Linked DNA regions of Homo sapiens: regions 1 and 3 are each linked to region 2. Evidence: fine-mapped expression QTL. A gene starts in region 2. Each other region holds a variant in brackets. All regions are shown on one strand. Distances are from middle to middle.

Region 1 (2,761 bases), 170 kb after region 2:
ATTAATAATTATAATTTAGAGCCTAGCATGGTGGCTCATCCCTGGAATCCCAGCACTTTGGGAGGCCGAGGCAGGATTGCTTGAGGCCAGGAGTTCCAGACCAGCCTGAGCAACATAGTGAGACCCTTGTCTCTACAAAAGAAATTTAAAAATTAGCTGTGTGTGGTAGCACATGCCTGTAGTCCCAGCTACTTGGAAGGCTGAGGCACGAGAATCACTTGAGTCTATGACTTCAAGGTTGCAGTCATCTGTGATCTCCACTGCACTGCAGCCTGGGCAGCAGAGAAAGATCCTGTCTCAAATAATAATAATAACAATAAATAGTGGTAATTAGATGAATATTTGCTAAGAAGGAAAAGGTTCACAACTAGTTTAAAAATTACAAGTTGTGCAACAATGTAAGTATAATACAACCATTTACAAAAATATTTATGCATTTCTTATATGTCTCTGTTTACATGGGGGAAATGTGCACAACTAAGATGTAATTTGGGAAAGACACACTTTTTTTCTTTATACATTATCAATTACTTATGTAATAAAAACAAGTGAAGGTAGAAGAAATGAGTTTTCAGAAGGTCTAAACTGCCAAATTAAAGATAGTTGGGCTGGGTGCGGTGGCTCACACCTGTAATCCCAGCACTTTGGGAGGCCAAAGCAGGAAGATTGCATGAGCCCAGGCATTTGAGACCAGCCTGGGCAACATAGTGAGACTCCATCTCAAATAAATAAATAAATAAACAAATAAAGATGTCAATATTCCGTGGCTAACAAAATGCTTTGTTTGGCAGGGTTTTTGTTGTTGTTGTTGTTATTGTTAATATCTATGATATTGGCCAGGCACAGTGACCCAACACTTTGGGAGGCTGAGGCAGGTGGATTGTTTGAGCCCACCTGGGCAACATGGTGAAACCTCATCTCTACAAAAAATGCAAAAAATTAGTTGGTGTGGTGGCATGCACCTGTGGTCCCAGCTACTTAAGAGGTTGAGGTGGGAGGATCACTTGAGCCCAGGAGGTCAAGGCTGCAGTGAGCTGTGATCTCACCACTGCACCACTGCATTCCATCCTGAGTTGACAGAGTGAGACACTGTCTCAAAAAAAAAAAATTATATATATATATATATAAATATATATATATATATAATTGCTCCTTTTTTTTGAGACAGAATCTTACTCTGTCACCCAGGCTGGAGTGCAGGGGAGCCATCTCACCTCACTGCAACCTCTGCCTCCCAGGTTTAAGCGATTCT[C/T]TTGCCTCAGCCTCTCGAGTAATAATGGCTACTTTAGATTTAGCCTCTTTTCATTGCTCCTGTGAGATAAGTATTCCTCTAAATTTTACATTTTCACTGATGTTCAATTTTTTTTTTTTTTTTTTTTTTTAGATGGAGTCTCGTTCTGGTACCCAGGCAGGAGTGCAGTGGCGCAATCTCGGCTCACTACAACCACCGCCTCCTGGGTTCAAGTGATTCTCGTGCCTCAGCCTCCTGAGTAGCTGGGATTACAGGCACCTGCCACCACACCCAGCTAATTTTTGTATTTTTAGTAGAGACAGGGTTTCGCCATGTTGGCCAGGCTGGTCTTGAACTCCTGACCTCAGGTGATCCGCCTGCTTCAGCCTCCCAAAGTGCTGGGATTACAGGCGTGAGCCATTGTGCCTGGCCCAACATCTATATTTTTATCATTAAAAGCTTCTAATATGCAATATAGTCGCTATTCAAATCTCAAAATAAACAAGTTACATTTATCATGAAAAGTCTTGCTCCACCCTTGCCCCTTGACTATGTATTTTCTCAGTTTCTTATGCATCCCTAGATTTTCTGTCTGCAAAAACAAGCAAATATATACGTATGTATATTCCTTTTTTTTTTTTTTTTTTTTTTTGAGACAGAGTCTCACTCTGTCGCCCAGGCTGGAGTGCAGTGGCATGATCTTGGCTCACTGCAACCTCTGCCTCCCAGGTTAAAGTGATTCTCCTGCCTCAGCTTCCCCAATAGCTGGGATTACATGTCTGTGCCATCATGCGTGGCTAATTTTTTTATTTTTAGTAGAGACAAGGTTTCACCACATTGGCCAAGCTGGTCTCAAACTCCTGACCTCAGTTGATCCGCTTGCCTCAGCCTCCCAAAATGCTAGGATTACAGGCACGAGCCACCATGCCCAGCCCATACATATATTTTTATTTTCCCCTTTTGTTATACTATACGCACTATTTTGCATTTTTAAAATTTTACTGCATCTTGTAGATCTTTCTCTTGTAGTTCCAACAGGATTCTATGCCTGCTGCACAGCAACAGTTGACCAATGCAATGAGACAGCAGAGTCTGCAGCAGAGAAAGAGTTTAGTGATCGCAGGGCAGCCAACTGAGGAGATGGGAGTGTTACCAGCGCTGAATTTACATGGTCTGCAGCAAGCTCAGTTCTTGCCTCCTCAGAAGAAAGAATTCAACTGAGGGGCATAAGGCAGAGTGAGAGACTGAGGCAAGTTTTAGAACAGGAGCGAAGTTTATTAAAGAGCTTTAGAGCAGGAATGAAAGGAAGTAAAGGACACTTGGAAGAGAACCAAGCAGTTGACCTGAGAGATCAAGTGCGCTGTTTGACCTTGACTCGGGGTTGGCATACTTCCAGGGTCTTGCATCCCTTCTCCCCTGATTCTTCCCTTGGGGTGGGCTGTCCACATGCATGGTGGCCTGTCAGCACTTGGGTAGGGGCGCATGTGCAGTGTGTTTACTGGAGTTGTGGGCATGCTCACTCAAGATGTG
Region 2 (2,761 bases):
TTCAGTTAGTGTCAAGTGGTTCTCTATTTTAACTGTTGTGAGGTAACGAAAAAAAGCCGTGAAGTGACATAAATGATGGCTGATCATGTGAAGGCCTAAAACGTCATTGTGAGTTTTGTGAATAAACATTTCCCAAGAAAAAAGCAGAGAAAGGAGGTGGGAAATTAAGTCACGGAGGGGAACATGGTAGCTTATGAGCATGACCGCCACACAACCAGGACCACAGTTAGTGGTCCAGGAACTATTGAGAGCCATGTTAATGAATCAATAGCATTAGCTAACAGCAAATTAGATAAGATACAACGTTAGTGGAATTTCTGTAAATTTATAGGGTTAATTTACAAATTATTTTAGTTTCATTGCTTTGTAAGAGCTATGCACACCTTAAGCCTAGTTGTACGTTTGCTCATATTTAAGCTAAGTTATACAAAGATCTTAAGTGAACGCCCTGTATACCTTCCAGGAGTTACTAATAAACGTGCAATGGGGCTTTAACAGGTGACATTTAACTCAGGGTTAAAAATTATGTAGGACTGGACTTCAGAAACAGAGGAAGAGAAGGGCCATACTGGCCGCGGGAGGAGACAACTCCAGGCAAGTGTGGGGAGCGCGAAGAAGCCGAGCCCCTGCGGAGAGCTGGTCGGGTGGCTAGGGCGTGGCGAGCGCGACGTCGCAAGGGCTAGGGACGTCTGGGTGGCAAGGAAGCCTTTCCCAGGATGCGAGACGGCTTTCCACATTTGGGCCTCCATGGACTTAGGCTCGCAAGCGGGACGCCCCTCAGTGTCCGTTTCCGAGGCCCCATCCCCGGAGGGTGCAGGAGAGTCTGCGCCCAGCGCGGACAGGGGCCCCGCGACCCTCGCTCGGGCTCCACTACGGCGGGCGGGCATTGGCTGCCCAGAGGGCCCAGTCGGCTTCCGGCGGCCGCGGGCGACTCCTGGTACCCCCGAGGCCCCGCGAACTCACCTTCACAAAGCTGTCGGCGTCCGGGAAGCCTGGCAGCACCATCTCTCCGTCGGATTTGGTTGCGCTGGTCGCCGACAGGACCCTGGGCTCCCGGGTACTGGGTGGCGCCATTTTTTCAGCCTGCACGGCTCGTCTCGCGAGAGCTTGTCGGCCGAGGAGACGGGACGCGTGCGCACCACGCATGCGCCAGGTCGAAGCGGCGGGCGGGGCGTCTGATTATAGTGTGGGGAGCCTGCGATTGGGGTGGGGCGCCTGCGATTAGGTTGGGAAGCCTGCGTTTAGGGTGGGGCACCTGCGATTAGGTTGGGAAGCCTGCGATTAGGTTGGGAAGCCTGCGATTAGGGTGGCACTTTCGAGCGCTCTGGTGTGAATTTCACGTTCTTTTACCTCATATTGTATCATCCCAACAACCCTGTGATCTAGGGTGCGGCCTGGAGGACCTGACTATCACATATATTTTTGACACGAGGTTTGCCCAATCTGGTTTCGAACTCTTGGGCTCAAGAGATCCTCCCACCTTAGCCTGCGAAGTAGCAGGGACCCCAGGCGAGGGCCACGATCCCCGCTTATCCTCGTGTTTATTTAAAAATTTAAAAAACAAACAAACCGGGATTACCGGGAGTGGTGGTGCGCATCTGTAGTCCCAGCTGCTCGGGAGGCTGAGGTGGGATGGTTGCTTGAGCCGAGGAGGTGGAGGCTCCACTGCACTCCAGCCGGGGTGACAGGATGAAACCCTGTCTCAAAAATTTCTTTTTAAGGTTATGTTTTTGAGGCTGGGCGCCGTGACTCACACCTGTAATCCCAGCACTTTAGGAGGCCGAGGCGGGTGGATCACCTGAGGTCGGGAGTTGGAGACCAGCCTGGCCAACATGGTGAAACTCTGTCTATACTAAAAACACAAAAATTAGTCGGGCGTGGTGGCACATGCCTGTAATCCCAGCTACTCGGGAGGCTGAGGCTTGAGCCCGGGAGGTGGAGGTTACAGTGAGCCGAGATCGAACCACTGCATTCCAGCCTGGGCAACAGAGTGAGACCTTGTCACAAACAAACAAAAAAAACCATGTTTTTGGGACAAAGTTTCACTCTTGCTCTCCCAAAGTGCTGGGATTACAGATACGAGTCATCAGCGTGCAGCCTATTTTTATTTTTATTTTTTTTGAGATGGAGTCTCACTCTGTTGCCCAGGCTGGAGTGCAGTGACGCAATCTTGGCTCACTGCAACCTCCCGCCTCCCGGGTTCAACGAATTCTCTTGCCTCAGCCTCCCGAGTAGCTGGGATTACAGGCGTGCACCACCACGCTCGGCTAATTTTTTTCGTATTTTTAGTAGAAACGGGGTTTCACCATATTGGCCAGGCTGGTCTCGAACTCCTCACCTTGTGATCCTCCCGCCTCGACCTCCCAGAGTGCTGGGATTACAGGCGGAGCCACCGTGCCTGCCCTGTTTATTTTTTTTTTTTGAGACAGAGTCTCACTCTGCTGCCCAGGCTGGAGTGCAGTGGTGCAATCTCAGCTCACTGCAACCTCCGCTTCCTAGGTTCAAGTAGCTGGGATTACAGGCGTGTGCCACAATGCCCGGCTAATTTTTTTTTTTTTTTTGTATTTTTAGTAGAGATGGGGTTTCACCATGTTGGCCAGGCTGGTCTTGAACTCCTGACCTCAAGTGATCCACCTGCTTTGGCCTCCCGAAGTGCTGGGATTACAGGTGTGCGCCACCAGCGCCTGGCTTATTTTTTTTAGACTGCATCTTACCAACCTGGTCTCGAACTCCTGGGCTGAAGCCGTCCTCCCACCTCACT
Region 3 (2,761 bases), 75 kb after region 2:
TGGGGTGCAATGGTGCGATCTCAGGCCACTGCAACCTCCACCCCCTGGACTCACGCAATCCTCCCACCTCAGCCTCTCAAAGGCCTACACCACCACACACATTATTATTTTTTTTTTGTATTTTTAGTAGAAATGAAGTTTTGCCGTGTTGCCCAGGCTGGTCTCGAACTCCTGAGCTCAAGTGATCTGCCTGTCTCAGCCTCCCAAATTGTTAGGATTACAGGCATGAGCCACCACGCCCAGCCACACCTACTCTCTTGATTGTTCAAAGAATAAAGAGATTTTTAGTGAACCAGCTGCTATCAGCCTGTGTATTTATTTCCTCTTCCCCCTTTTTCACTTTAATTTCCTACAGGACTTTCTCCCTAAGCTACATTTCTCTTATTTCCTTCTGAGGAGTTCCCATGCACGCCTCTAAAGCTGCTGGAGAATACTAATTATGGATGTGGATGCTCTGGACAGTGAAGTCAGCAGGCTTATTAATCCTGGTGATCAAGAGAGTCTGTTATCTTGTTTGGGATCTTAATTTTTTCTTCTTCCTCCATGCCTTCTGGCACTCCATCACGGGAGGCAACAAGAAGAAGATACAAGAAGAAGATACCAAAATAAGAAGAGAGCTCACCATATGTGCCAGGCACTGCGCTTATTGTTTCTATGTATTATTTCGACCCTGTGAAACTATTATTAATATTCTCATTTTATATATGAAGAAAACACAGCCCAGTAGGTCACAGGCTATTGCCTTCCCTTAAAAGGTGACTTTCTCTTAAAAATGTTACCACGGAAAAGTATCTTTAGTGCCATGTTGAGGTAAAGAGAAAAAAGTATCTTAAGTAATAATGAAGGGTATACTGCAAGCTCTGCAATGGGAGGGACAGGCGGTGTCTTAGCTTTCTCCTCTTGGCATCAGTAGGCACCCAGGAATTAGCTGTAAAATGAACGAGTGTGAGCAATGGGTGGGATGTTTCCATTAACTCTCTCTCTAGAACTCATTGTGCAGGAGAAGGGAGCCCTCCTGTGCCTTCATTTTAACTTCCTCACTAACATTCCTCTCTTACTCCCAAGCTCCCATCTCACATTTTTTATTTCCTTCCAGAAGCTACTAATATGCCTCCAGCCTTCCACGTGACAAGTCAGCATGCCATCACAGCAGGCTTTTCAAAGACAGCCAGGCTTATAGTTCAGGCTGCAAAGTGCAGGACAAGCAAGTCTCTGTGAAAATGCAGGAGTTCACAGCCACTAAGTCCCAGATCTCCTGCCTACCTGGGTGATACAAAGCCGTCCTTTGAATTATGTCCCTTTTCTAATGAGATGTGGTTTTTATGAGACTGAAGGCAGAGACTGTATGTTCGGCTCCTGTGAAGAAATCACCTTTGCTCAAAAGCCCCCTTAGCGAGGAACTCTTGTTTTACGGG[G/A]CAGCTGGGAGTTTTATAAAGCCCATTCTATAAACACCCCCTTGGGTGCCCCTCAGTCTTTCCCTATTAATGCTGCAGGCTTATAAAGGGCAAACTGTTCAAAGCTCCAGCCCAACAGAAGAGGAGTACGTAACACCACAAACCAGACCCTGCTGATGCTGGTCTGGTGGAAAAGATCTGAACACAAACAAGTTTAAAGAAACTGAGGCTTGTCAGCAACGTGCCTATAACAGTGTGCAGAAATGACAGGTCAATCAGATTTCCCATCTCCTCTTGACGCCTACTGAGGCCAAAAGGAAAAGAGAACTGAGTCCCAAGAATTTTCTAAACTAGTGATTCCCACTGCCTCCCTAACATGGGTGTGGGGTATGTTGGTATTCTACTCCAGTTTCCAGTTATAACATCCAGTTGCTATCATACAGTTGTGAATCTGTAGAACAAACAGAAACTGCCTATCCGCATAATAGAATCCAGAGCCCACAAACTGAACCTGGCGTTAGGAAGACAACGAAGACAGGCGGAAAGGAGAACATGGTGAATCTGGGTATCAGGGGCAGAAGGAGGCCGCTGTACAGACATATTCATTCTCATTCATTCTCCACTCTCCCCACCCCAGCCCAAGATTGAATTCTGATTAAAGGAGGCTGAATTGCAGAGCCTCCTTTCATCAAATTCGAGTTTTGAATTGAGCTGGGAAAGTTCTTGGCAATCAAGGAAAACATTTTCTAGAGCTGAGCAGAACTAATACTAAGAAATTGCCTTGCTGCCTTCCTATAGCAAACATCACACCATTACGCTGAACATCTTATCCCCACTATCCAGAAACCTTGTTCCCAAGGCAGGGCAAGCATGCGAGCTGAGCAGCGGGTGGTTCAGCTGTGCAGACACTTCCCCCGGCAAAGGCCCTGTCAGGAGTGACGGTAGAGCAGCTCACGTGGGCAGTGGCGCCTGCTGCCTCCCCATAGCCCTTTCCTCTCAGGCTCTCCCTAGCAGGTTTTTTTTTTTTTTTTGAGACAGGGTCTCACTCTGTCACCCAGACTGGAGTGCAGTGGCGCAATCTCGGCTCACCGCAACCTCTGCCTCCCAGGCTCAAGGATTCTCATGCCTCAGTCTCTCCAGTAGCTGGGATTACAGGTGCGCGCCACTACTGCCCAGCTAATTTTTCTATTTTTAGTAGTAGAGATGTGTTTTCACCATGTTGGCCAGGCTGGTCTTGAACTCCTGACCTCAAATGATCTAACCGCCTCAGCCTCCCAAAGTGCTGGGATTACAGGCATGAGCCACTGTGCCCAGCCCCCTCACTGCCTTTTATTGGAGGAGGATGAGATTGACTGAAATAGTGGGTC

The links. PIP is the estimated chance that this variant, and not a neighbour inherited with it, causes the effect.
Region 1: its variant is fine-mapped to the expression of EXOSC10 in whole blood (TOPMed, PIP above 0.99).
Region 3: its variant is fine-mapped to the expression of EXOSC10 in whole blood (TOPMed, PIP above 0.99).

The regions. Positions count from the first base shown.
Region 1 is chr1:11,264,142-11,266,902 of GRCh38, forward strand. No RefSeq gene overlaps it. Among named protein-coding and RNA genes, the nearest start is that of MTOR, 3.0 kb to the left of the region's middle. The variant C/T (reference allele first, on the strand shown) is at 1,253.
Region 2 is chr1:11,098,758-11,101,518 of GRCh38, forward strand. It overlaps EXOSC10 (exosome component 10), which reads right to left and starts at 1,112. Exons shown (of 25, transcript NM_001001998.3): 1 at 964-1,112. The coding sequence starts at 1,074. It overlaps EXOSC10-AS1 (EXOSC10 antisense RNA 1), which reads left to right and starts at 918. Exons shown (of 2, transcript NR_135062.1): 1 at 918-1,057. RefSeq lists enhancers at 278-840, 492-551, 841-1,401 and a silencer at 453-654.
Region 3 is chr1:11,173,338-11,176,098 of GRCh38, forward strand. The region is part of intron 28 of MTOR (mechanistic target of rapamycin kinase); the gene reads right to left. Among named protein-coding and RNA genes, the nearest start is that of ANGPTL7, 15 kb to the right of the region's middle. The variant G/A (reference allele first, on the strand shown) is at 1,416.